7 linked regions of the Homo sapiens genome follow. The protein of the gene in region 4 purifies or fractionates together with the protein of the main gene of each other region. This does not show direct contact. Each region holds a gene or a part of one and is shown on either strand. Other genes may lie near its edges. The genes, in order: SLK, CEP43, VPS13A, RABL2A, SPTAN1, TBC1D9B and SEC23IP.

Region 1 (3,981 bases), on a different chromosome or scaffold from region 4:
CAACGTCCACACTGCCCCACCAGGGAGTGCTGCCCAAGGGGGCTGGAGGCAGATCAGGAAGTGGGGGCCTTAGCTGAGGTGGAGTCACCAAGAGTGACACCAGGTTTACAGTTGTGGAGGTGGCCAGAAGTTAGTTTTACCCTCAAGGGAGTGTCGCAGTCATCAGTTGAGAAGTGGGGGCCCGGCGCGGTGGCTCACGCCAGTACTTTGGGAGGCCGAGGCGGGCGGATCACGAGGTCAGGAGATCGAGACCATCCTGGCTAACACGGTGAAACCCCGTCTCTACTAAAAATACAAAAAAATTAGCGGGGCGTGGTGGCGGGCGCCTGTAGTCCCAGCTACTCGGGAGGCTGAGGCAGGAGAATAGCGTGAAGCCGGGAGGCGGAGCTTGCGGTGAGCCTAGTTCGCGCCACTGCACTCCAGCCTGGGCGACAGATCGAGACTCCGTCTCAAAAAAAAAAAAAAAAAAAAAAAAAGAAAGAAAGAAAAAAAAGAGAAGTGGTCTTAAACAGTTTTTATGTATCTGTGTCTATCTTGCCTGCACACTTAAAACAACAAGAGTAAGAACTAAGATTGAGCGTTTACGGGTGCAGGGGCCGCGCAAAGGGCTTCCATCTATTGTCTCATTCACAACCTTCTGGTAGGGACTATTAGGATCTTCATTTTACGGCGAGGAAACCGAGGCTCGGAGAGGTCACCTGCCCAAGGTCACAGATCTCTCTCTCCAAAGCTCAAGCTCACAACCACCACACAAACTCCCCTCTCACTGTACCTGGGGCCCGTCTGAGAGCGAAAAAGTCCGCTTTCAGGTCCCAACCCTAACAGGTCCGGCTTTCACTCCACAGTTTTTCCCAGATCCAGAATGGAGACAACATCCGCTAGCACAATCAACAGGGTCGTCCCACGGGGGCCGCTCCATCAAGGCCGTGGACTGACAGGATTTGGGGCTTGGAGGGCAAATGAGAAACAATCGTCAGGGACCGAAGAACAAATGCGTCCATCACACCAGCCCCCCGCACCCCGAGCCCCGTGCTCCGCTCACGCGAACCCTCGGGGGCAGCCAGTCTGAGGGACGTAGCGCGCGTGCGCGGGGCCAGAGGGGACGCCCCCACGCGAGCGCGCGGTGAGCAGGGCGCGTGACCGGGCGGGCGCGCAGCCGGGAAAGCGCGCGGGCGCGCTACGGAGTCGGCGTCGGCGCGCGCTCCAGGCCGAGGCTGTGTGGGCTGGGGAGGGAGACAGGCGGCGGCGGCGGCGCCCCAGACCCGAGGGGACGCGCGGGCCTTGCGCCGCGGGAGCGGACGGCGGCGGAGGAGACCCTAGGCTCGCGGCCCGAGGCGGGAGGGCTCGGCTTCTCGACTGCCCGCCTCCGAGGCCGCCGGCCGCTTCTCTCTCCCAGAGTGGCCGCCGCCCCTGGAGACTCGCCGTGACACGGGCCTAAGCCGCCGCCGCGGGAGTCCTGACCGCTCGGACCCGTCGGATCAGGCCGGGTGGGAGCGAGCTTGCGGGCAGGTGCCGCTCCCGGAGGGTGGGCCGGAGGCGAGGCGCCCACCGCGCGGCTCGCGGGCCGGGCTCGGCGGAGGGGCCGCTCGCGCAGCACCCCCACCGCGGGCCGGAGCCCGGGTCGCCGCCCCGCCTTCTCCCGGGACCGCCCGGCCGGAGCTGCGGGGGCCGAGGGACGCCGCGCCCGCCGCCGCCAGCCGGGCTCGCGCGGGAGAGCAGGGAAGAGAAACTTTGCCTTTTATTGTTTTTAGTCCTTAAGTGCAAGGAACTCTGTGTTGGGAGGAAAAATGTCCTTCTTCAATTTCCGTAAGATCTTCAAGTTGGGGAGCGAGAAGAAGAAGAAGCAGTACGAACACGTGAAGAGGGACCTGAACCCCGAAGACTTTTGGGAGATTATAGGAGAACTGGGCGACGGAGCCTTTGGGAAAGTGTACAAGGTAAGAGGGGGAAAACGGGAAGTTGTACTGCGAAGGTAAAACAGCCACTGGCCTGGAGTGGCGGGAGGACTTCTGCTCCCCTGGTCCTTATCCTGTCCTTCTTTTGACTGTTACGGTTCGATGCAACTTTACTTGGCTGATCATCCAAGGAGTAGCTAAGAAGTCGGGTTTACGGTGGAACAAAATGGGGCCTGGATGGAGTTTAAAGAGCGATTGGAAAAGGAGACAGGGTTATAAAGTCTACTCTTTCAAACTTCAAAGGAAATGAGAGTGTTCTTTAATTTATAGGAGGGGTCTGGTTGTGCCCTTCAAGTATTTTAGAATGAGAAACTCATTGCACTTTGCAGTGGATTTGTCTACTGACTGCATTCGCGTGCATGCTTGTACTCCAACAGTTCTGTTTTTAGGGTCCAGTATATATATTTGGTTGTATCTAGAGCTAATACAGAACTAGTTGGGATCAAAGTGATTGCTACTTGCAGTCTCTTCTTGAGTTAGTTGCTTGACAGCATACTATAAAATAGAATGGAATTTCTGACAAAATTTCCAAAAAACCTTCATGTGGTACTAGTTTTAAATATATTTATGGTAAGCATTGACTAGAAGTCAGTATCAGCGCTTAAGCAGTTAAAAACACACACGCATGTATTTATTTCAATAGAAAGAGGCTTGGCGTTTCAACCTGAAGGCATTAATGTTAACTATTTAATATCTCCTAAGGAACATATGAATGATGTCATTGGAGTATTTTCATCCTGAAGGGCGAATTTTTTATGAGACAGCGTTTAGGGGAAGGACCCACAGGGTTGCCTAGAAGTGAAAACGTAAGAAAATAACTTATGTTTATACAGGACTTTGAAGTTTTTAAGTACTTTCAAATAATTTGGCCCCCACAAAAATCTTGTGAGGTAGGCAGGTCAGTATTAGTATCCACATTTCACAGATGAAGATATTGAAATTGTTCACAGTCACATGAGTCTCAGCCTAGACTTGAACTCAGGTCTTCTGAGCCCATATTTAGTATTGTTTTTTATTTTAACAGTCACTGGTAGAAATGAGAGCATTTTGCCTACTACTTTCTTTTTTTTTTGAGACGGAGTTTCGCCCCTTTTGCCCAGGCTGGAGTGCAATAGCGCGATCTCGGCTCACTGCAACCTCCCCCTCCCGGGTTCAAGCGATTCTCCTGCCTCAGCCTCCCGTAGTAGCTGGGTTTACAGGCATACGCCACCATGCCCGGCTAATTTTGTATTTTTAGTAGAGACAGGGTTTCTCCATGTTGGTCAGGCTGGTCTTGAACTCCCGACCTCAGGTGATCCGCCCGCCTCGGCCTCCCAAAGTGCTAGGATTACAGGCGTGAGCCACCGTCCCCGGCTGCCTACTACTTTCTAAGCACCATTACACTTCTGCCTCTGCCCTGCCTCAAATGCATCTTGTCAAAACCCCAGTCCTCATTCTTTATCCAGGCTAAAATATCTACTCCTCTCTGTGTGCTTTCAGAACACGTTGTTCACATGGCTATTATAGCACTTGTCACTTATTACAATTAATATGTTTATGTTTCTATAATAAAATTAAGGGCCAAAATTATGATACATATTTGGGTTCATTCACTGCCTTAGCGTATAGTGATGTGTCTGTTTATTTGTTGAAATGAAAGAATGTGTTTTGTCTGCATATGAATGCTGTCGTGGAAGCTATCATAGGCTGTGGAAGTTGGCAAAATAAGCTTTGTTATTTGTGTGGAGGGTAGAGTATGGGCTTCAGCAAGAGCTTCATAAGATGCAAGGCTTCATTGTAGTGGGAAGATCACTCCTGGGAATCAAGAGTTGTGTTTTAGTGCTGGCTGTCACAAACCAGCGTTGTAATCCTGGACAAAACACTTAACTTCTCTGGACCTCCGTTTTCTTAGCCATAATATTAACTTTCTTAGGAGTTTAGATTCTTTCACCCATTAAAGTTCTGTGAGTATGTAATTAGCCTGGAAAGGCAAAAATAAATGCTCAAGGCACCTAGAATCTTGTAGTTAGAAGGTGGTAGGTGATTA
Region 2 (3,500 bases), on a different chromosome or scaffold from region 4:
ATGTTTAGCAAGAAGACCAAGATGACAAGATGCGCCAGGAGACTTGGCCAGAGGACCTCCAGGCTGACAAAGTTTCCCCGAGGAAGTCAGATTGGAAAAGTGTCCTCAGGTTCAAGGAAACCTGGGTGTGCACCGGGTGAATGAGAGTGGCAGACAGAAGGAAACAGCAAGGCCTCTGAGGTAGGAGGGACAGCGTTTTTGAATGTGAAATTTATTCCCTGATACATGTTTTTAAAAATGAATCTTGCTGCCCTTAGAAAATGAACCCCCGAACAAGGTAAGGTCGAGCTGGCCCCTCGTGTCATCCGACTTTGCGTTGTGGCCCTGCCTGCAGAAACGTGTGCTCTGCTACAGCCCTGGGAGGAGGGGCCGGGCTCCCAACTCCTGCCCCGCTTCTAGCACATGCTGTGCTTGGCCACTTCTCTGCCTCTTAGTTTAACAGCAGCACTGGGCAAGGTTTGCCCTCTGCACACCAGACCGGCTTCCCAAGAACCGGGGAAGAGGAGAGGGCATGCCTGGGGCCTGAGCTTAGTGGGCCGGGTGGAGGCAGGAGGTACTGCATGGAGGAGCGTGGACAGTGGCATGCAGGAGGCCAGTCATTCTGCGGTTTTAGCTGGAGGTTTGTTTTTGGTAGTTTGTAGAATCATCAGATTTGATGATGAAACTTTTTTTCCATAAATGTTAAATTTTCAGACACTTGTATTTTTTTTTTCCTTTTTTTTTTTTGAGACTGAGTCACTGTCGCCCAGGCTGGAGTGCAGTGGTACTAGCTCGGCTCACTGCAACCTCTGCCTCCCAGGTTCAAGCGATTCTCCTGCCTCAGCCTCCTGAGTAGCTGGGATTACAGATGTGTTTCACCATGCCCGGCGAATTTTTTTTGTATTTTTAGTAGACACGGGATCTCACCGTGTTGGCCAGGCTGGTCTTGAACTCCTGACCTATGGTGATCCGCACCCCTCCCCGCCCCCCCCGCGGCCCAGCCTCCCAAAGTGCTGGGATTACAGGCATGAGCCACTGTACCCAGCCCTGTATTTTCTTTAAAAACCAATTTTGGGCCGGGCACGGTGGCTCACGCCTGTAATCCCAGCACTTTGGGAGGCCGAGGCAGGCGGATCACGAGGTCAGGAGATCGAGACCATCCTGGCTAACATGGTGAAAACCCATCTCTACTAAAAATACAGAAAAAAAATGAGCTGGGTGCGATGGTGGGTGCCTGCAGTCCCAGCTACTCGGGAGGCTGAGGCAGGAGAATGGCGTGAACCCAGGAGGCGGAGCTTGCAGTGAGCCCAGATCACGCCCCTGCACTCCAGCCTGGGTGACAGAGCGAGACTCCGTCTCAAAAACAACAACAACAACGAAAAAACGATTTTGGCATGTTTTGTAAGTTGCCAGACTATTGGATATACCTCTTAATCATACTTTGTTTGAAATCCTTTGTGGTTTCTAAAGCACTAGTAGCTTTCTGAAAGGAAAATTTTTAATGAATGAAGCATGCTTCATCCTGCACATCCCCTCCTGCCCCAGCACCCCTACTGCCCATGCGCCTCTCCTGCCCCAGCACCCCTACTGCCCCAGTGCCAGGCCTTTTCTAGCAGCTCTCATGGGTTCATCCCTGCTGCGGGCATTGCTCCACCAAGGGGCAGTGCTCTCCCTGCCGGTAAGTGTTGGAACTTCACGTTTCCCTCTAGTTTTCTCTTTACATTTTAACATACACTATTATGTGTCAATATATTAATTATATATTAATTACATTTATAGAGGTTAGGTATATATGGCAGATCATATCTGAGCGTGAATTACATTCTCCAATATTTTTATTTGTCATGATTTATTGCAGGGTTCACTTATTTGATCTACCCCAACTTAACACACATTTCCAAGAAAATATCCATCACACTAGAAAGAAAGAAAGAGGAAGGAAGGAAGGGAGGGAGGGAGAGAAGGAGAAAGGAAGAAAGGGAAGGAAAATGGAATGGAGGAAGGGAAAAATGGAAGGAGGAAGGAAGGAAGGGAAAGAATGAAGAAAGCCATTTGTTCCTGCAAACCTAAACCTCTTTGTAGTAAGTTCTGGCAGAAGGTGTGTTTCTGGAGTTAAACTACAGGCTTGGAAATGGAATTTCTTAGCCTAATTTCTAAATTAGAACTGCTTATGCAAATTAACACTCCGTACATTTCAACAAGCAGTTGGCTGATTTCTTCTGTCCACTCCACCTGCAGATGCAGAGGTGGCCCCATCCTGTGATGTGCCACCACATCCCTTTTCAGTGAAGGGCTTTGTTGGCTGCTGTGGGCATTCTCATGGCCTCTCCAGGGATGGCCTCCACTGTAGAGACCTATGTCACCAAGGCCAGGCCCTCTCAGGGGGCTCCATCCAACGACCATTCTGCCTCAGGGTAAGAGGCCCGGCCCTCTCAGCCTGAGTCCATTCTGGCTCCAGAGCTCCCTGAGAGCTTGCCTGGCAAGTTACTCTTGCAATTCTAGCTTCCAGCAGGCGTTGATTTCTGGGGCACTTTTGATAAACTCCTGGCAGGAAACTCAATCTCTGGGGGTCAGAGTCCACTTCCTGGGGAGCCCAATCTGTGACCCCTAGGAGTGGGGACCATGGAAGCACTTGGCTCTCCAGCATGTGCTGAATAGGGGGCGCTGCCTGCAATGTCCACGTGGAAACCTGGCTGGGAGAATGCCTGTGTGCTCTGCATGGGGATGTAAAGGTGTGAGCAAACCTTCTTCAGAGAGGGGATGTTCAATGCGAAATTTGAACATTGGGACCTGAAAAACTGATGGGCTGATGGGGTCTGCCCATGATTGGCAGCCTTCATAGAATCACGAGGGAGGAGCACAGGCCACCCTAGACAGGAGGGGTCCCCTACTGACAGGGAGGTGCTGTCGGGGCAGCAGGCACGTGCAGGAAAACGGAAAAGCAGAGTAATTGAATGTAAATCATGCAACTCCACTACAGTGGCTAGAAGCCTGGATGGGCAACTTGGCTGAGTGATGTTGGGCAAGTTATTTAATATCAGTATTCTCAGTTTTCTCATCTGTAAAGGGGATTAAATACTTCCTTCCCTTACAGGGCTGCCCTGGTCTTAAGTAATGCCCACAGAGAGCTTAGCATTGTTCTTGGCAAGTCACTAGTACTCAGTAAATACTATTTTTATTAAGAAGGTAAGATTCACAGGACTTAGTGTCTTAACTAGATGTTGAGAGTAAGGAGAAGAGAGAATACTTCTCGGATGATTGTTCAGTTTCTGATGAATGTCTGTTCCCCTTTCAAAACCTAATTCAGATGTCACTTCCTCCTCAAAGCTCTCGCCCCGCGCCGAGCTACTGTGATGTATTTTTATGACCTGGCAGCTTTTTTCTCATATCCCTGTTAGCGGTATGTGGTAAGAACATGAGACACAGAATCAGAAACCATGGATTTCTGGTCTTGACTCCACTACCACTCAGAGGAACCTCACGGTGGATGCCGTAAGTGTTTACACTGAAAAGGATTTTCA
Region 3 (3,500 bases), on a different chromosome or scaffold from region 4:
TGAAAATCTGTCTGCAGGTTGACCAAGTCATTATTAGGTAGGAAACACGTGAGTAATTCTGCAGTCTCTTGCTTCAGAAGCAAAATTTCATCCACCTAAAGGCCCCGATTCTCATGATTATATAAATCCACAATATATTTCAAACAAATAATATACATTCCTGCACACATGCAAACATCCAAAGGATGAAGGAAACTCAGGATAGACAACAACCTACAAGATGATGACACAGGCATTATAGCATAGTGGTTTAGAGTGGATTTAACGCCTCTGCAGCTGGATTTGCATCCCATCTTTTCCACTTTGTAGCTATTATTACTTCAAGAAGTCTCTTAACCTCCCTGGTCTCAGTCCCTTCACATGTTAAATAAAAACTGTATCTACCTCCAAGAGTTGTTGTAAGGATTAAAATATTTAGAACAATGTCTAAACTGTGTTCTAAATTATGTTCTAAATTGTTCTAAATTATGTAACAAGTAACATAATACTTGTTACATAATTGTATTAGAAGCATAGGCAACATTGGCCTTAGATTTGAAAATTATATTCAGAGGGCAAACAAGGAAGCATGTGGGCAAGGCTCATGATGAGACAACCTGAACCTTGTTGTGATTAAAATAAAGTGTCGAGTGTGGTATAAACATTCTCAATTTTGGAAAATTTTTTCAGTCTTCAAATATACGTTGATGAGGGAATGTTAATAAAGGGGGAGGCTATACATGTGCAGAAGTAGGTGGTATACGGGAAATCTCTGTTCCTTCTTCTCAATTTTGCTGTGAACCTAAATCTGTTCTTAAAAAAATAAAGTCTTTTAAAATACATATATATATATATACACACATAGACATATATAGATATACCTTGATACCAAGATTCCATGGTCTAAAATCCTCAGTCTGATCAATTTCTAAGGGTTCAAGCAAAGGCTCCCATACACCAAACATTTCATTATAATAATGCACCTACAGAGAGAATTTTTTAAATTAAAAATGATCTTCCATCCTGTTTCCCACCATGTTTTTTAGCCCTGTTATTTCTTCTATATAAAAACCAGTCTACATGCCATTCAGTAGCTTCCTATAAGCACTCCCTCAGCATTTTCCTCACCTGGCTAACTTCATAGTACATATTCGCTCTTCACAATTTAGTCCAGATAAAACCCCTTTTTAAGCATCTTTCCTTGATTCTACATTACATAAAAGTATAAGGCATATATTTCTAATTCTTCATATTTCTATTAGAAGAGATTATTATCCACATATTCAGAAATTCTGTCTATATCCTTAAAAAAAAAAGGGTATTCAACTTTAACTCTTTTCTTTTCTTTTTTTTTTTTTTGAGTCTGGGTCTCACTTTGAACCCCAGGCTGGAGTGCAGTGGTAAGATCTCAGCTCACCACAGCCTCGACTTCCCAGGTATTCTCAAGTGATCGTCCACCTCAGTCTCTCGAATAACTAAGACTACAGGTGTGAGCCACCACCACTGGCTAATTTTTTGTATTTTTAGTAGAGACAAGGTTTCACCATGTTGCCCAGGCTGATCTTGAACTCCTGGGCTCAAGCGATCCTTCTGCTTTGGCCTCCCAACGTGCTGGGATTACAGGTGAGCCACTGGGCCTGGCCTCAATTTAACTCTTTAAAAAAAATATTCTGAATCTAATCAACAACTGTCGAATAATATATTATCTTTAAGTTGATAAAATCAGTTGAAATATAAACTTAATGTGGACATGTACTTTAAAAGTAAAAGGAATGTATACATAAAAGCAATTATTCAAGGGCAAAATTTGAAAACTTTTTTCTAAAAGTTTTTGACCCAATATCATATTTACAATAAGCTTAAATAGCTACACAAGATTCCATAATATTCCATATGTATCATTATCTGTCATAATATTCCATACGTATCATTATCTGTTATAAAACTGGAAAAATATGCTTACTTCTAGCTCAAGCTGACAGTGCAGATTTATTAGGGAACTCCAGTTTTTGCCTTCCCCTGAAAAACGTGACTTTGCCAGAAGCATAGGTACTGTTCTATGACCAATTCCAGCCTCAAGAACTATAAAAATAGAATCAATGTTCATTTTTATCATCTCGCCTTTGGGTACCAATTCAGTTGTGGGAGCTATTTTTTCAGTTTCATTTGATTCTTCAAGAAACCACATTTTTAAAGTCTTTGTATCCTTCTTTTCCCATAAATGTGCAGTAGAAGAAGCCGTTTCTTCTGGGATGGTTTCCTTAGTTGTATACAGTGCTGAAGTTATGGTAATCATAGTATTTATAATAACTGGTGAAACCTAAATGGAAAAAAATTAATAAGTCTATACAAAACACTTTCAAACATACTACGTCAAGAAATATTAAATATATATTATGAGAAATTAAATACTGAATTAACATTACTACCACAAAATAGAAGATACAATTTATTGTTTATAAAATTTTTTAAATTACCATAATTCTTGTTATGTGTTTACATGAATCTTGCAGATATTTACATGAATCTTGCAGATATTATTCCATGAATTACATGATATTATTAATATACATGAATTGCAGATATTATTAAACTGATGAAGTATAAAGTAATTTCAATAATATTTATTAGGGATATTAGATGTTAACCACACAAATGTAAATAATAAAATATAGAATAACATTCATAAAATGTGTATTAAATAATATTACTTTGTAAATATCTCATAAAAACGTATTTTCAAAAACACACCTATTTTGTTTGCATAACAATTAAAAGACTTGCTATAATAACTTTCTAGGCTTTACTACTTTTTTTAAGTGCACTAAATATTCAAATGATTATATTTTAATTTACCTTTAGTGTCAGGGATTTTACTGACATATCGATCACTTGTGGATCTGTACCTTTCTGAGTAGTTTGATAAAACAAGTCACAGGGCTGCAAAACCTATGAGAGAAAAATCAATACCACTAAATTAATGTTTAAATATAAAAATATTTCTATTTAAAGACTTTCCTAGTAATAGGTATGTCAAATAAACAAGTTAATAAAAACAACTATTTAAAAAGTGACTTAATAATACACTCCTTAATTATCCCATATAAAGGACATCTAGAACCTAATATCTGTTCTATTCTTCCACAGTAATAGAAGTTTTATCTGAGCACAAGGTAGCTCAGAAAAAAATACCACAGTCTCCAACCTTTACTGAAGTAAAGTGTGGTCATACAGCTATATTCAAGCCAAAAAAGATGTGAATAGAAGAAATATATATTTAAAACTTCTAAGTCAAAAACTAAGAGAGAATTGGTATACCCTCCATTTTCTATTCTCTCTCTTTGCTTAGTGGAGGGCCAACTGTCTTGCAAATTTGGGCAACAGTTTATCTTATATCCTAATATATATGTATTCATTGTATCAAAATTACATCTTATATTTCTATGGTGACAATGTTTAGAACATTTATGCTTCTATAGATGCATACCAAGCATCAGGAAAAAAATACAAAGAAACAAACA
Region 4 (4,229 bases):
CCTCACTAAGATAGGTGCATATCTGATTCCCTGCTTTGGAGAGGCTAATCAGAAACTCAAAACAATGCAACCTTTGTCTCTCACCTACCTGTGACCTTGGAAGCCCCCTCCCTGCTTCCAGTTGTCCCCACCTTTCTGGATGGAAGCAACGTACTTCTTACATATATTGATTGATGTCTCATGTCTCCCTAAAACCAAGCTGTGCCCTGACCACCTTGGGCACATGTCGTCAAGACCTCCTGAGGCTGTGTCACGGGTGCACGTCTTTCTAAATTACCTGAAACCATCTCAGATAGGGTTCACACATCCCTTTCCCGAACCCTCCCAGGAGCCCCTCGTGGGCGCCCAGGTCCTGCCTGCTGTTGTGGCCCAGGCTCACCTGGAGCAACTCGACTCTTCGTTACAGCCTCGTGAACCTTTCAGTTCCTAAAGCTGTCTAGCCTGTGAAAGGAAAATGAATCTGGGGGCCCCAAAATCACTAAGCTAAAGGGAAAAAAGCTGGGAACTGCTTAGGGCAAACCTGCCTCCCCATCTATTCAAAGTCACCCCTCTGCTCACTGAGATAGGTTAATATGTGATAGCCTCCTTTGCGGAGGCTATTCAGAAACCCGAAAGAATACAACAGTTTGTCTCTCACCTACCTGTGACCTGGAAGCCCCCTCCCTGCTTCGAGTTGTCCCGCCTTTCCCGAGGGAACCAACGTTCATCTTACATATATTGATGTCTCCTGTCTCCCTAAAATGTATAAAAGCAAGCTGTGTCCCGACCACCTTTGGCACATGTCAAGACCTCCTGAGGCTGTGTCACGGGCGTGCGTCCTCAACCTTGGCAAAATAAACTTTCTAAATTGACTGAGACCGTCTCACATATTCGAGGTTCACAAGCCCATGCATGGGGACGTCCCCTGGGGTAGCGCCCCTCCTCCACTGAGCTCACTCGCTTCCTCCTTGTGTGTTTTCTTCAGAAGAAATTTCACAGCTACTTGGTCCACACCTGTCTGCCCCACAGGAACCTCTCTTCTCCACAGGCACATGGGCGGCGTACCTGCTGGGCTGTGTGGAGAGGACCGGGTTCCTCTCCTGATTCCTGCTCAGTTAATAACGAATGTCGACAAGTCGAGAAAATTGCTCAAATTTACCCCATCAAAGAATTAAAAACTGGTGAAAGCTTGACCTGCGCCCCCCACCCCTGACGTGCTCACCGCTCCACTCCCTCTAGGCGGGCGGCACCCGCTGAAGCCTCAGTACCACACCCACAGCCAGGAGCCCCAGTCCCGCACTCGGCCGCATGCGCACTCCCTGCGGCCCTCCCGCCAGGCGCCGCGCTGGGCAGCCAGCGCCCCGGCGGGGTCCTTCAGGCCTTCGGCCGGGCAGCCTCCCTCGGGGTCCTTGCGCGGTTGCGTAGCAGCTGCGAGGACGCGGGGCGAGCCGGAAGTGGAGTGCGCTGCGGTGCGAGCTGGGCCGGCGGGGTGGTTCGAGAGCGCGCAGAGTCCAGACTGGCGGCAGGGCCCGAGGGGCCGACCCGCAGCGTCCCTGGTCTCTCCAGCCCTCACTCGGAACCGCACGTGAGGGCAAATCCGCCCCGGTGGCTGGCTTAGCACGCGGGGACAGCCCCTCCGAGGCCTCCCTAGCGGTGTGGGCGAGAGGGCGTCCGGGTCGGGGGAAGCACGGAAAGGTGGCTTCGCGAGGCTGTTGTGGGGGGCGGGACGGGCAGCCTGGCGATGCCTGGACATGGTTGGTGGCCAAAAACATTTATCGAAAGATAGCATACCCACTTAGATGGCGAGGACATCGACAAGCAAGTCTTCGCCCGTAAGCGGTGGCTCACGCCTATAGTCCAGGGATGCCGAGGAGGGAGGATCGCTTGAGTCCAGGAGTTGGAGGCTGCAGTGAGCCGTGATCGCGCCACTGCACTCCAGCCTGGGCGACAGAGTGAGACCCTATCTCTAAACAAAAGAAAGAACGTCTTCAAGCATGGAGCCATGAAGCTGGATTTGGCTTTCTGTCGCTCTCTCTACAGGGTACAGGTGAAAGGGGGCAGACCCCTCATCATGCTTTCCAGGCATCTGCCACTTCCCAGGAATTGTCTCCCTGGATAAACAAGGCGAAGTCCCTGGCTGTGCAGAAGCAGTAGCTGTGTGGTGGCACAGTCAGGAAAACTCGGGGGCCCTGTTGGTATTTTCTACCCCTGACCCGTGTGCATACTTCTGTCGTAGCTCTCACCACAGTAGACTCTGCTATCATTGTGTCTTCCATCCTCTGAACCCTGTGCAAGGTCTGCTCATGGTGAATGCCCAGTAAGGCTCACCTATTGCTGCTATCTCATCATCATATCATTTCTATGTGCCCCCCTAGCTAAGAGTCTGGACTGTGGTTACATTCTCAGGAATGTCTGCAAAGTCATATTTAGGTGTGAGGAGAGTAAAACAGAGCTAGACATAATGTTGCACACAGCCTTTGGCACTGGATGCCTGGTGAATGTCTTGTGCAAATGGGTAACGTGAGGAGCAGCATTTGGGGTGCGCAGGACTTAACTATTTGTGTATAACATATTACTGATGCCTGTGTGTCATCCTCTGCTACTCCAAGTCTAGTAGCCAATTGCATACCATATCTCAGTCTGGCACTGAGGGAAGCAGTCTGGATGGAGGTACAGCTGGAGATTTGGTTGAGGGGACTTATCTCTGACAACAGCCTCTTGTTGATCTTCCCAGACAGTGACAATACCCTCCCCTCCCTTGGGCTGGACCCCTCTCTACAGCTAGGAGCCAATGGCAGAAGACAAAACCAAACCGAGTGAGTTGGACCAAGGGAAGTATGATGCTGATGACAACGTGAAGATCATCTGCCTGGGAGACAGCGCAGTGGGCAAATCCAAGTATGTTGGGAGATTAGGGAATAAATACCAGCCCCAGAGAGGGTCCAGGTCATTTAAAAAGTCCTCCAGAGGCAGAGGAGCATGGCTTCTTGGGGCTGGTGAAGGAGCAGTCTTGGCTGGAGCCCAGATGTTCATGGGGGAACGAGGGGAATCACATGACCCGTTGTGTGTGTCGGGTGGAGGGGGCAGGTCATAAGGACTGAGGAATTTGAATGTTTCCTCTGAGCCCTGAGAGAACGTGTGGAGCAACTGAGGACATTGTATGTGGTTTGTGGGCTGAGGGATGGCAAGGGCGGGGAGTGGGAATGGAAAGACAAAAGTGACTATGCCACCGTGACAGATTGGGTAAAGGTGGTAAAGATGCTTTCTTGGAGGGACTCTCTGAAATAGAGAAAACTGGGTAGAACTGACGATTGACTATAATCATTGTGAAGACTGGCTTCTTCTTGTAATGAATTTCGGTGCCTACATGCCACCTGGAGAGGTGAAGGGAGGCTCTGCCGTGCTGCCAGCTTGTCTCCATGAGACGTCCTAGTTCTCACGCCTAGGACTGCTGAGGGCACATGTCCATTTCCGCCTTCATAGCATGACGGTACACTTGCCCCTGCCCAGAGAAGTGGTCACGTTTATCTCCCAAGTACTCCAGGCCCACCTTGGTTTCTACCTTCATTTTTATAGTCAAGTCCTTTGACTCAGGTAGCTGTGAATAATTCTCTGGGGGCTTTGCTGGTTTTTAGGCCATCTCCATGAATTTGAATTCTCTGTCTCTCTCTCTCTCTCTCTTCCCCACCACACAATCACACACTGCAGCTCTGGTTTAGAATTTTTTTTTTTTTTTTGAGACGGAGTCTCGCTCTGTCCCCCAGGCTGGAGTGCAGTGACGTGATCTCGGCTCACTGCAAGCTCCGCCTCCCGGGTTCACACCATTCTCCTGCCACAGCCTTGCGAGTAGCTAGGACTACAGGCGCCCGCCACCACACCCAGCTAATTTTATTTTTGTATTTTTAGTAGAGACGGGGCTTCACCTTGTTAGCCAGGATGGTCTTGATCTCCTGACCTCGTGATCCGCCCACCTCAGCCTCCGAAAGTGCTGGGATTATAGGCATGAGCCACCGCGCCCGGCCTCTGGTTTAGTATTTTATAGTTACTTTGACCATCCTCAACAGCACGCCTGTACAGTAAAAGTGAGGGTAGGTGTTGTAGTTTGGGAAGGTTACCCAATAAATAATACCCCCTTTATCCCCACTCAAGTTTAAAACAACAAAGAATAGAAATGGCAGGCAGGTGTAGAGCAAATTGCCACTTTAATAACAAACAGAGCTTTCGGAGAATGTATCTTGGTATACCCAGCT
Region 5 (3,500 bases), on a different chromosome or scaffold from region 4:
CGCAGTGATCTGCGGTCTGAAGGAGAGCAGGAAAGGGGGCATGTGTGACTGAGTCTCAGCAGTGTCCAGGTGGACAGTTTGGCTTGGGCATCTGGGGGACATGCTGGTGCCATCTGAGCCTAGGAAGAGCAAGTTCCAGTCCTGTGGAGTCACCACAAATTGGCTTGTCACTCCTTGTTCAGGAAACTTTTGACGCTGGGCTGCAGGCCTTCCAGCAGGAAGGCATTGCCAACATCACTGCCCTCAAAGATCAGCTTCTCGCCGCCAAACACGTTCAGTCCAAGGCCATCGAGGCCCGGCACGCCTCCCTCATGAAGAGGTGGAGCCAGCTTCTGGCCAACTCAGCCGCCCGCAAGAAGAAGCTTCTGGAGGCTCAGAGTCACTTCCGCAAGGTGAGGATGGGGCCACGTGAAGCTTAGCTGGCCCACAGCTCAAGGAAGGACGCCCACCTTCTGTCTGCCCAGCTCTGCCACTCCCCCTTGAGGAAGCTGTGAGCTCAGTGCAGAGCTTTCAAACATGGGTGTGGCTGGCATCAATTAAAACCAGGGCAAATGAGAGGGCCCTGTGAGATCGCCATTCAGAAGCACGCAGGACAGACTAGAGACAAGGGCAAAGGGTAGGAAGGGGAAAAAAGGCTGGTGAAGACTTGAAGGGGGAGCAGGAGACAGGAGCAGAGGGGAGCTAAGCTCCCAGCAGGCTGTGTGCGCCTCTGATTCCCAGGAACCACCCCGCACCCCACCTCCTGCACTGCGTCGGCACGTCCAGCCCTGGCGACTCCGCCAACTCAGTCTCTTCTGCTTCCAGGTGGAGGACCTCTTCCTGACCTTCGCCAAAAAGGCTTCTGCCTTCAACAGCTGGTTTGAAAATGCAGAGGAGGACTTAACAGACCCCGTGCGCTGCAACTCCTTGGAAGAAATCAAAGCTTTGCGCGAGGCCCACGACGCCTTCCGCTCCTCCCTCAGCTCTGCCCAGGCTGACTTCAACCAGCTGGCCGAGCTGGACCGCCAGATCAAGAGCTTCCGCGTAGCCTCCAACCCCTACACCTGGTTTACCATGGAGGCCCTGGAGGAGACCTGGAGGAACCTACAGAAAATCATCAAGGTACACCTCCCGCTGCCCTCAGGAGCTGCTCGGCCTCCCAGAGCCCTCTCTGGGCCCTGCTCAGAGCCCACACTTAACTGAGTCACGACAAGACGAGCAGGATGGAGGAGCATGGTTTCATCAGAAGTTTCATTTCTTTTTGTGTTCTTGAGGCAGGGTCTCTGTCACCCAGGCTTCAGTGCAGTGGTGCTACCATGGCTCCCTGTAGCCTCAACCTCCCAGGCTCAGGTGATCCTCTTGCCTGAGCCTCTTGAATAACTGGGACTACAAGCACGTGCCACCACGCCTGGCTAATTATTTTAATTTTTGTAGACAGGGTGTTGCTATGTTGCCCAGGCTGGTCTTCAACTCCTGGCCTCAAGCAGTCCTCCTGCCCAGGCCTCCCAAAGTGCTGGGATTACAGGTGTGAGCCACTGTACCCAGCCAGAAGTTTCCATTTCTGACAGTCCAGCAACTCCCTGCTTGACTGACCAGTCGCTTCCCTCCAGGTCCGCCTCTTCCTTGAAGCCCCTGGGGGGTGGGAACAGAGAAAGAACTACCAAGTGCTCTGAGCCGGCCTCATGTCTCCCAGCCTCCTCCTCTCATCTTTGGGGAGGTTCCTTGTGGGGAGGCCACCACCACCCTGAGCCCATCTGTGAAGGAGGGGCTGGTGTCACTGCCACAGCAGCGCACAGCATCTGCCCCCCTTTGGCCCTCAGGAGAGGGAGCTGGAGCTGCAGAAGGAACAGCGGCGGCAGGAGGAGAACGACAAGCTGCGCCAGGAGTTTGCCCAGCACGCCAACGCCTTCCACCAGTGGATCCAAGAGACCAGGTGCCAGCCCGCTGGGGCCGGGGAGCAGCAGCATGTCCCTGCTGTACTTAAGCCCTGGGGAGCTTCCAGCCCCAAGGAGGTGGTGGTGCTTTGTGTAAAACCAGAGGCAGCCTGGGAATAAAGCTGGGCTGGCAACGCCTGGTCGGGCTCTGGAGCCGGGAGTGGGGGCATAGGTGGAGCAGCCTCTCAGTGCTGCATGTCCCAGACATCAAGTTGTTAGAGATCCCGGATTGAGTGGGACCATGCAGGGCGCGTGGTCAGCCCCAGCCATGACTTGGTGACAGACGATGCAGGGTCTGTGCGTTGGGTACTGATGTTCTTGCTTTTGTTTTCCTTTCTTTCTTGTGTCTTCTCTCTGTCCCCCCGATTGCTGCTGTTGTCCGGACACCACCTTGTCTCCCGGCTGCTTGGATCTGCTCTCCACAGGACATACCTCCTCGATGGGTTAATATTGTTTTCTTCCTTCTCTGGGCTTGTCATGTGGGGGTCTCGTGCGCTTGCCCCTCGTGGCCTGGCTTGTGGAGGATCCCGGGATGGGCCTTCCTGCCCAGGGCGGGCTGCACTTCCCCTCCCACCCTTCTCGTCACCTGATGAGGAGTGTGTGCCTTGCCCCATAGCCCATGGTCCCTGGTCCCCGATAGAGCCTTCAAGCCAGGGGGAGCCGTCCTTGCCTCACTGGGCGATTCCAAGGGCTCACTTTGGGTAGGGAAGGTGATGAAGCACGAAGGCCAGAGCTGGAGTCCAGAGGCCCTAAGAACCCCCGTGCCTGTCCAGCCACCGGGCTCTGTTGGGCTCTCACCTCTGCTTCCCCAGCGAGTCCAACAGTGGTCAGTGGGCATGAAGCAGATGGCAGTGCTGGGGGCTCAGGCAGGGTACAGTAAGTCCACAGCTGAGAAGGGCTGGGCACTGACACCCCCTAAGTAGCTGAGGCTGCCACTTTACTTTCCTGGGGTCAGGGAGGGTAACAAGACTGTCCGCCCTAATAGAAGGCAAAAATGCACCCGTTATGTGATAGACAGGACGTGGGAGGAGCCCCAGGGAGGAGCAGGGCTGGGCTGTCCCGCCCAGTCCCGGCAGGGACTTCTCTGCTTGGCCTGGGGCCTCTGCCTGGCCGGGTCACCTTTGTAATCTGCCAAGCCTGCTGTGAAAGCCAGGGCTGCTGGGACTGGAGTGGCTTGGCCTGCACTCCTGAGGCTCTGCACCCAGGCACATCAAGCCTGTATAGGCGGCCAGGGGAGAAATAGACCCATCCAGCCGGGCCACACATTCTGATGGCAGAGCAGCTGGGGACGTAGGGATCGCAGTTTCCGGCCTGTGCCCGTAGGACACCCTGGCCACCTGACTCCCCTCCCTGCCCCATGCCTGTGTCTGCTGGTCTTGCTCTTGTCTCCGTGAGGTGCCACGCTCCCCTCACCTTATGGCTCCTCCCAAGCCCTGCCCATCTTGCCCATTCCTAGTGTGAGCTGCCTGGGGTGAACCACTGGGCCTGCTGCCTCCAGGTACCCGCCGGGCACCAGGTTGCCCTTGCCTGCGCCCTGCCAGCTTGGGCTTTGTGTGTGTCTGTTGCAGTGTGCTCTTGCCTCCCCTC
Region 6 (3,500 bases), on a different chromosome or scaffold from region 4:
CCGAGTAGGACCCTCTTCACAGCCTGTGCTGCCCAACTCCCTCCTGGAGAGGTCACAGGGTGAGTCCCAGATCTCCTGTCTCCCTGGCGTCCTGCTGGGAAGGCTCAGCCCTTCCCTGGGGCTGGCAGACCAGCTTCTAGCAGCCCCAGACTGCATGAGGGAGGGGAGCGGGCAAGGCTCCTGCTGGACCCCATCTCGGCTCCCGTGGGTAAACTGTTCTTCCCGTATCTAGGGCCAGGGGCTCAAGCTGCCCCCTACTTGCTGCAGGGGGAACAGACAGGAGATGCTGGCATTTGGAGGCTTCCTGGGAAAGGGTGAGGGAGGGTCAAGCCCCTGGTAGGCCCTGCAGGCACTCACTCATCCCTGTCACGAACTCCTTGAAGTTGATCAGCGAGTCCTTGTTTTCGTCCAGGAGCCTGAACATGCGCCCTGCCAGCAGAGGTGTGTGGGAGCCACAGGCCCAGGGTGTCAGGCTGGCAAAGAGTTCCCGGAACTGGCTGGCATCAATCCGGTACTGCTCCAGGTAGGGCAGGCTGGGGTCCCGACGGCCGGCCATTGTGCGGCTGCACCCCCAGTACTGGCTAGCCAGGTGCTTGGCCTGTGGGACACGGTCTGGTGAGACGGTCCAGCCGCTAAGCCTGTGGGTCGAGGGGACCCCTAGGCTGGTGGTGTGTCCACCCTCCCCCTCTGTCCAAGCCTGCGGAGCCCTGGGGCGGTAAGCACGGGCCAGACACTGCAGCACCTCCCGAAAGCTCTCAGGCTGTCATCAGCCCCTTGTTAACAGATGGGGAGGGGGTTGGCTGAGAGACAGAGTCCTTGGCAGCCTGCAGGGGGCAGAGCTGGTCTGCTGGCCCCAGAGAAGGGCTGAGCCTTCCTGGCAGGGCTCCAGGGAAACAAGAGGCCTGAGGCTTGCTCTCGCTCCTATGACCTCTCTAGGAGGCAGGCAGAGCTGGCTCAACTGTTGTGACGCTAGGGCCACAGCGCAGCAGCCACCTTGAGCACGGAACCTGAGGCAGCTGGAGAGGTGGACGGGAACTGGCAACAACAACAGAAAGGCAGATTCCAACCATTAAGGCTGGGTCTTTTGCTAAAAGCACAAGGGAAAGAAAAATTCTCTTTGCACTGGGATTACTGAGAAGAGAGTATGACCCTGGAGCTGTGACGACAGTCCTGGCATGGTGTAGGAAGAGCAGTGCAGAGGACATCAGAGATGGGGAAGCCTGACGGCACATTTCAGCACCTGGATCCAGCCATGCCTGAAGCTGTGCATTGCTAGACTTTTCAGTCTAGCAATACAGGGGCAATGTATTCCCTCTTCTGTGTAAGATGACTTGAATGGATTTGCTGCCATTTAAGAGGTCCTGCCTAAACTCCAAGAGGGATTCGATTCTACCACAGGAGGTTCATGGCAACTGCATCTGAGGATGCACTTAGATCTGTTTCTGTTTTTCTATTCTATTCCCTATTTCTATCTACTTCTAAGAGGATACTCTTAGATCCATTTCTTTTCTGGCAGGAAGCTAGGAAGCTAGGAACGGGTCCTGCCCTGGCTCTGAGCTGTCACCTTAAACACCATGTAAAGGTCCTCCAGCTCTTCAATGGAGAAACCAATGTCCACAGGTATAGCTCGGACCTAGAAGGAAGGAGAAACAGGGTATATAGCTGGATCACAAGCTCCTGGCACAGAAGTACGGCACTCTGTGAGAGCATCCTCGGCAGACAAGGGCAAGGGTGTGAACCGCCCTCTCAGTGGCCCAGCACTCAAGGGCGGACCCTTCGGGAGAGAGCGAGGCCCACAGCCCATCCCTGGCCCCCCACCTACCACTCAGCTCACACTCCGGGCTCCTTTCCAGGATGGGCGTGGGGGAGTCTCTCTCTCACACTCCGGGCCCCTTCCCAGGATGGGCGTGGGGGAGCCTCTCTCTCACACTCCGGGCCCCTTCCCAGGATGGGCTTGGGGGAGCCTCTCTCTCACACTCCGGGCCCCTTCCCAGGATGGGCGTGGGGGAGTCTCTCTCTCACACTCCGGGCCCCTTCCCAGGATGGGCGTGGGGGAGCCTCTCTCTCACACTCCGGGCCCCTTCCCAGGATGGGCGTGGGGGAGCCTCTCTCTCACACTCCGGGCCCCTTCCCAGGATGGGCGTGGGGGAGCCTCTCTCTCACACTCCGGGCCCCTTCCCAGGATGGGCGTGGGGGAGCCTCTCTCTCACACTCCGGGCCCCTTCCCAGGATGGGCGTGGGGGAGCCTCTCTCTCACACTCCGGGCCCCTTCCCAGGATGGGCGTGGGGGAGCCTCTGTCCTCAACGTGCAGCTGAGGTCGCAGAGTGAGGGATACTCATTTGGCTCCCGTCATCTGGATCCCTGCAGAGACCCTGGTGCCAGCTCTGTGGAAGGAGGCCGAGAACCTGCCAGCCAATGCTCCTGTACTTTAATTGGCCAAAGCAGTCAGTCTGTGGTGCTGCGACCCAATGTCCTTACAGTGTCCTACAAGCCTGCAGGAGGGCTGGGAATGTGGAAACAATGGAGGAAGTCCCTGCCTTTGGGGGCAGAGACCACAAACAGGTCTTGCAGCACAGGGTGGCAGGGAGGGCCTGGCCCCTCTAGAGATGAGAACAGCAGCTTGTGGCAGACACATGCCATTTGGGGTGTGCGGAGGATGGCGGCATGTTGCTACCTGGGAGTGGGGCAGGGAACACATGGGAAGCCAGGCTGGGCGGGCTCGGCCCAGAGGGCTGGGCATGTGGCTTTCAGGGTGGGAGCCATCTGAGAAGCTTCCCGGTGACACATCCACCAGCAGAGAAAAGTGACTGGAACCTCTCCCCACATTCCCACCTACACCCCTGGATCCCGGTCCCATGAATCCTACCATGATGTACATACCAAAGCAGTGTAGGAGACTGGGTGCGGTGGAGCCCTGTACCCACCCTGCTCTGTGGGGAAGGCACTGCTGCCCCCCCAGCCCAGCCCCTGCCCAGCCCTGCTGGCACCCATACCACACTCCTCTTGGCCGTGTCCTCCAAGGACTGGATCACTTTCAGCCTCTGTTTAAACCGCATCTGCTCAATGTCTTCGGCCCTCAGGCTGCTGAATTTCTATAGGGAGAGGTGACTTGGTGAGATCAAGCCAACTGCAGGGCAGAGGGCCACCACCTGCCCATAGCCACCCCAACCCACATGCCAGATGGAGCGGCCTGGCCAAAATGGCCCCACTGGGTGCTGACCTCATAGGACACTTTCAGGAGCTCAAAGATGTCCACCTCTGCAGGGGGGTCATCGCTGCTGCTCAGCAAGGCACGGAGGTGCGGGATAGGAGGAGAGACACTCTGCTTGTTGACCACATTATCCAGGTATCTGCAAAGGACAGAGGACAACAGTCCAGACCACGCCCAGGCAGAGGGAGCCTCCTTCCCACAGCTGGGTGATGCGGAGGGACCCAATCTTTATGCAGACTCCTAATAAGGAGTGTGCAGAGGACTGGGCACCCTGCAGGAGGGCAGAGG
Region 7 (3,500 bases), on a different chromosome or scaffold from region 4:
CATCAGTTTCATTGCCAGGAATATTTCCTATAGAGAAATATTCAAACAAGAATTATCTACAAGGATACTCACAGCAGTGTTTGCAAGGTAACAAAACATTAGAGACACCATTGGTGTTGAGGAGTAGGGTGCTAGTGAAATCATTTATGGTGCATCCGCATAACGGAGTACCCTACAGCTGTTGAATGAATGATGCAGTGTCAGAGATACCCGTCTCTAAGGTACATTTACATGAAGAGAGCAGAGTTCATTACTGTGTGCATAGTAGAGCACACACACAGAGAAAAACATGTAAGTGCTATGCATACATAAGACATCGCTTCAAAGAGAGCAAGTTTCCACAGTTGCGCTGAGAGGAGAATTCTATGTTTGGGACAGCAGTGGGAGGAAGATATTTCATCGTATGCTTGACTATAGCTTTGGAATTTTGTATACCATATGTGTATTTTCTGTTAATTAATAGAATGATTTAGGTGTGGAAGCCTAAGATTTTATAGCCTAAACTGATGCATGATTTAAATACAAAATAACTAACTTGTAAAAAGTTGAGTGGCTCTTAGATTGCTTTAGATGATGTGGTTTCTTTATAATTTTCATATTCTCATTTCAGTTCTTCTATCACTAGATTGATTAATGTGCTTGTCTGTTTCCTTTTAAAGCTTATGTGTACAGTTGATGACCTGAAGGAAATGGGGATACCCCTTGGACCCAGAAAGAAGATAGCTAACTTTGTAGAACATAAAGCAGCCAAACTGGTAAAGTTCACCTCTGACTCAAGAAAAACTAAAACTCATGGTGTGACCAGCTCGTTTATATTATAGAAAATTTTAATACTACTATGGTTAGGTAAGCTAGTTTGCTCCCTACCTAGGGCACAGTAATGGAGCTGATGGAAACCCAGACTTAGGAGTCAGAGTTGGGCTTAAGTCCACATTAGGCTAAGTGACCATCCTGGTTTTCCTGGGACTAAGTTCCTAGGATGAAGGGCTTTCAGTTTTAAAATGGATATTTAAGGTTTTCCTGGTGCAAACAGTGGTTAAGTTCTGACAAATAAATTCTCAGCTCAACTGCTCATTAACTGCGTATTAATGAGCAATTTGTATTTGGTTTTATTCATTTGTTTATTTTGAGATGGGATCTTGCTGTGTTTCCCACTGCTGGTCTCAAACTCCTGGGCTCAAGCTATCCTCCCGCCTCAGCCTTCTGATCATGAGTGATTTTCTTAATTTTTCTGATCCTTTGTTTTCTTCATTTCTAAAATGGAATAATACCTTCCTTACAGGATTGGAGTAAGCATGAAATAATGCATGCAAAGCTTAGCACCAAGTAATAGCTCACTTTCTTCCCAGTCCTTACCATCTAAAGAGATGAGGAAAAACATACACACTGAAGTCTTAAACACTAAACAGCAAAAATTGTTAACAATACAAAACAAGGCAACAGCTAAAAAGCATTTAAAACTAGAACAACTGGAAAATATACTTGTTTTATTAATTTTAATTTATTGATCAAATTAATTTTACAGAGGTTTTCTAATTAGAAAAATTAGATGACTCTTAGGGTGGCCGTCTTATTTGTATTGTTATTAACATGCTCTTTGATGATCCTTCCATCTTTTGAATTTCTATGGTTCTATTATTTTACTACCTGTTTGGAACTTAACCTACATCATTTCTTTATATGGGAAATGACTATAAAGTCATAGGACTGATTTTTTTTTTAATGGTTAGCTTAAGGAATTGAGTCTTCTCAGCATTTTATTGAATAGCAGCTACCTCTTTTGAGTCAGGCACTGTGTTCAATTCTTGGGAGCCGGAGATTAACCAAGAGTGTGCTGTCTAGTTGCGGGGAGCACGTTGAGCTCAAATGACAACATACCAGCCCCATAATAGCGTGCTGTGTGTGCTGTCCTGAGGCAGATGAGAGGTGGCAGTTCTGGCTTGTTGAGACAAGCATGGGGTTGGTGAGAGAAGACTTCTCCAAGGTGATGGTGCTTGAGCTTGAAGGAGGGGTAAGGTCAGGGGAGATGGCCTTCTGGAATCTGGCATGTGTTTTCCTGTAGCATCAGGGAAGCTGGAAACTGGGAAGGGCAGAGGGTTCCAAAGGCCCAGGTGGCAGGTGTGGAGGCTTGGATTTTCTCTTGTAAGGGAGTGGTTTTCAAACATGTTCTTATGGCCATGAAAGTCATGGTGTTTTTAAACATTACAAAATGCTGACCTGCTTATTCTATCACAAGTTATGATTTAGCACCAAATCATCTGTGTAGTCTAAATTTTAATTTTAACTTTTGGACTGTGGAGAGTTTGCTTGGTCACAGTGCACAGATGAAGTTGGAAAGGCGTGAAGTGGAGGCGGCTGCAATCTTACATAGTAGTAATTGTAATTGTACAGTGACTGAAAGAGAGATGATAGGGGTATAAGGTAGGAGGTGGAGAGGAAGGGAGCAACTCAAAAGACATTTTAGACATAGACAAGCAGTATTTGATTAAGTGCTGAGAAAGGTTATTAGTTTTGGCAGTTAAGAGGTATCTTTCATGTCATTTTTCTTGTGTGTTGAATCGTTCTGTAATTCCAATTTACAAAGAGCTTTTCATCTCACCTGAGCCTCACAACAACCCTGTGAGTAGATCCCCAGGCTTTTGTCTCTGATGAGCACAATAGTCAAACTGAGACTAGGACACAAGCATGTCAGTGTTGTTTCTGTATACAGGCTGCGTGCTCCATACAGAAAAATGCTTGTCTCCGTGTATACATCAGTGAAGCAAAAGCCTATAAAAAAAAAAACAAAAAAAACAAGAAATGAGAAGCTTTGTGTTCAGGCCCTACACCATGTTCTTAATTTATTCTGTAATGAAAGGGAAAAAAGTAGAAAAGGATTCTATAGTTCTTGAAGAATTTCTAGAAGGAGACTGGTTTATGGACTGCAGTTGCTTAGATATATAAATTATGGCATTATAAGAATGTTTTGAAATGAGCAAAAATCTATAGAGTGATCTTATTTTTTAAATTAAAAGGTAATTGCCTTTGGATGAACCATGAAACTTTCTCAGCTGAGTTGCCATTGATTGCTTTACACTTCTTACAGATAACAAGGTGCTACTAGATCAATACAAAAGTAATATGGTGTGTCCTGTTGATTTACTGTAACTGAAATAATGGGACCAAAATTAGCGATTATTTTATAACAAGGAGATCAAATATTTGTGATATTTGTGACTGTGTGCTTTTTTTTTCTTTTTAAAGCATCTTAGTAATTTTCATTTGAAAAGGAATTGTTTCTAGTGTTGGGGATATTGATAGTCAAGTATGTATATGTTGGTTCCGTTTTTTTTTTTTTGAAAGGGAGTCTTGCTTTGTCTCCCAGGCTGGAGTGCAGTGGCACGATCTCGGCTCACTGCAACCTCTGCCTCCCAGGTTCAAGCCATTCTCCTGCTTCAGCCTCCCAACTAGCTGGGATTATAGGCGTCTGCCACCACACCCAGCTAATTTTTGTATTTTTA

Evidence for each region.
Region 1: the proteins of RABL2A (region 4) and SLK fractionate together in Homo sapiens (co-fractionation; one large-scale study listed by BioGRID). This does not show direct contact.
Region 2: the proteins of RABL2A (region 4) and CEP43 purify together in Homo sapiens (affinity purification with mass spectrometry; one large-scale study listed by BioGRID and IntAct). This does not show direct contact.
Region 3: the proteins of RABL2A (region 4) and VPS13A purify together in Homo sapiens (affinity purification with mass spectrometry, with the first as the bait; one large-scale study listed by BioGRID). This does not show direct contact.
Region 5: the proteins of RABL2A (region 4) and SPTAN1 fractionate together in Homo sapiens (co-fractionation; one large-scale study listed by BioGRID). This does not show direct contact.
Region 6: the proteins of RABL2A (region 4) and TBC1D9B fractionate together in Homo sapiens (co-fractionation; one large-scale study listed by BioGRID). This does not show direct contact.
Region 7: the proteins of RABL2A (region 4) and SEC23IP purify together in Homo sapiens (affinity purification with mass spectrometry, with the first as the bait; one large-scale study listed by BioGRID). This does not show direct contact.

The regions. Positions count from the first base shown.
Region 1 is NC_000010.11:103,965,959-103,969,939, forward strand, and holds the start of SLK (STE20-like serine/threonine-protein kinase), read left to right. Parts: upstream 1-1,181; 5' UTR 1,182-1,787; coding exon 1,788-1,937; intron 1,938-3,981. UniProt on the Homo sapiens protein: Mediates apoptosis and actin stress fiber dissolution.
Region 2 is NC_000006.12:167,044,397-167,047,896, forward strand, and holds part of CEP43 (centrosomal protein 43), read left to right. Parts: 3' UTR 1-3,500. UniProt on the Homo sapiens protein: Required for anchoring microtubules to the centrosomes. Required for ciliation.
Region 3 is NC_000009.12:77,317,034-77,320,533, reverse strand, and holds part of VPS13A (intermembrane lipid transfer protein VPS13A), read right to left. Parts: intron 2,929-3,500; coding exon 2,836-2,928; intron 2,300-2,835; coding exon 1,943-2,299; intron 963-1,942; coding exon 861-962; intron 1-860. UniProt on the Homo sapiens protein: Mediates the transfer of lipids between membranes at organelle contact sites. Binds phospholipids. Required for the formation or stabilization of ER-mitochondria contact sites which enable transfer of lipids between the ER and mitochondria.
Region 4 is NC_000002.12:113,625,837-113,630,065, forward strand, and holds the start of RABL2A (rab-like protein 2A), read left to right. Parts: upstream 1-1,429; 5' UTR 1,430-1,564; exon of another isoform or gene 1,565-1,632; intron 1,633-1,778; exon of another isoform or gene 1,779-2,717; 5' UTR 2,718-2,770; coding exon 2,771-2,877; intron 2,878-4,229. UniProt on the Homo sapiens protein: Plays an essential role in male fertility, sperm intra-flagellar transport, and tail assembly.
Region 5 is NC_000009.12:128,625,587-128,629,086, forward strand, and holds part of SPTAN1 (spectrin alpha chain, non-erythrocytic 1), read left to right. Parts: intron 1-182; coding exon 183-392; intron 393-804; coding exon 805-1,101; intron 1,102-1,417; coding exon of another isoform or gene 1,418-1,504; intron 1,505-1,799; coding exon 1,800-1,912; intron 1,913-2,338; coding exon 2,339-2,356; intron 2,357-3,500. UniProt on the Homo sapiens protein: Fodrin, which seems to be involved in secretion, interacts with calmodulin in a calcium-dependent manner and is thus candidate for the calcium-dependent movement of the cytoskeleton at the membrane.
Region 6 is NC_000005.10:179,869,898-179,873,397, forward strand, and holds part of TBC1D9B (TBC1 domain family member 9B), read right to left. Parts: intron 3,352-3,500; coding exon 3,222-3,351; intron 3,094-3,221; coding exon 2,995-3,093; intron 1,634-2,994; coding exon 1,565-1,633; intron 599-1,564; coding exon 358-598; intron 1-357. UniProt on the Homo sapiens protein: May act as a GTPase-activating protein for Rab family protein(s).
Region 7 is NC_000010.11:119,920,230-119,923,729, forward strand, and holds part of SEC23IP (SEC23-interacting protein), read left to right. Parts: intron 1-659; coding exon 660-755; intron 756-3,500. UniProt on the Homo sapiens protein: Plays a role in the organization of endoplasmic reticulum exit sites. Specifically binds to phosphatidylinositol 3-phosphate (PI(3)P), phosphatidylinositol 4-phosphate (PI(4)P) and phosphatidylinositol 5-phosphate (PI(5)P).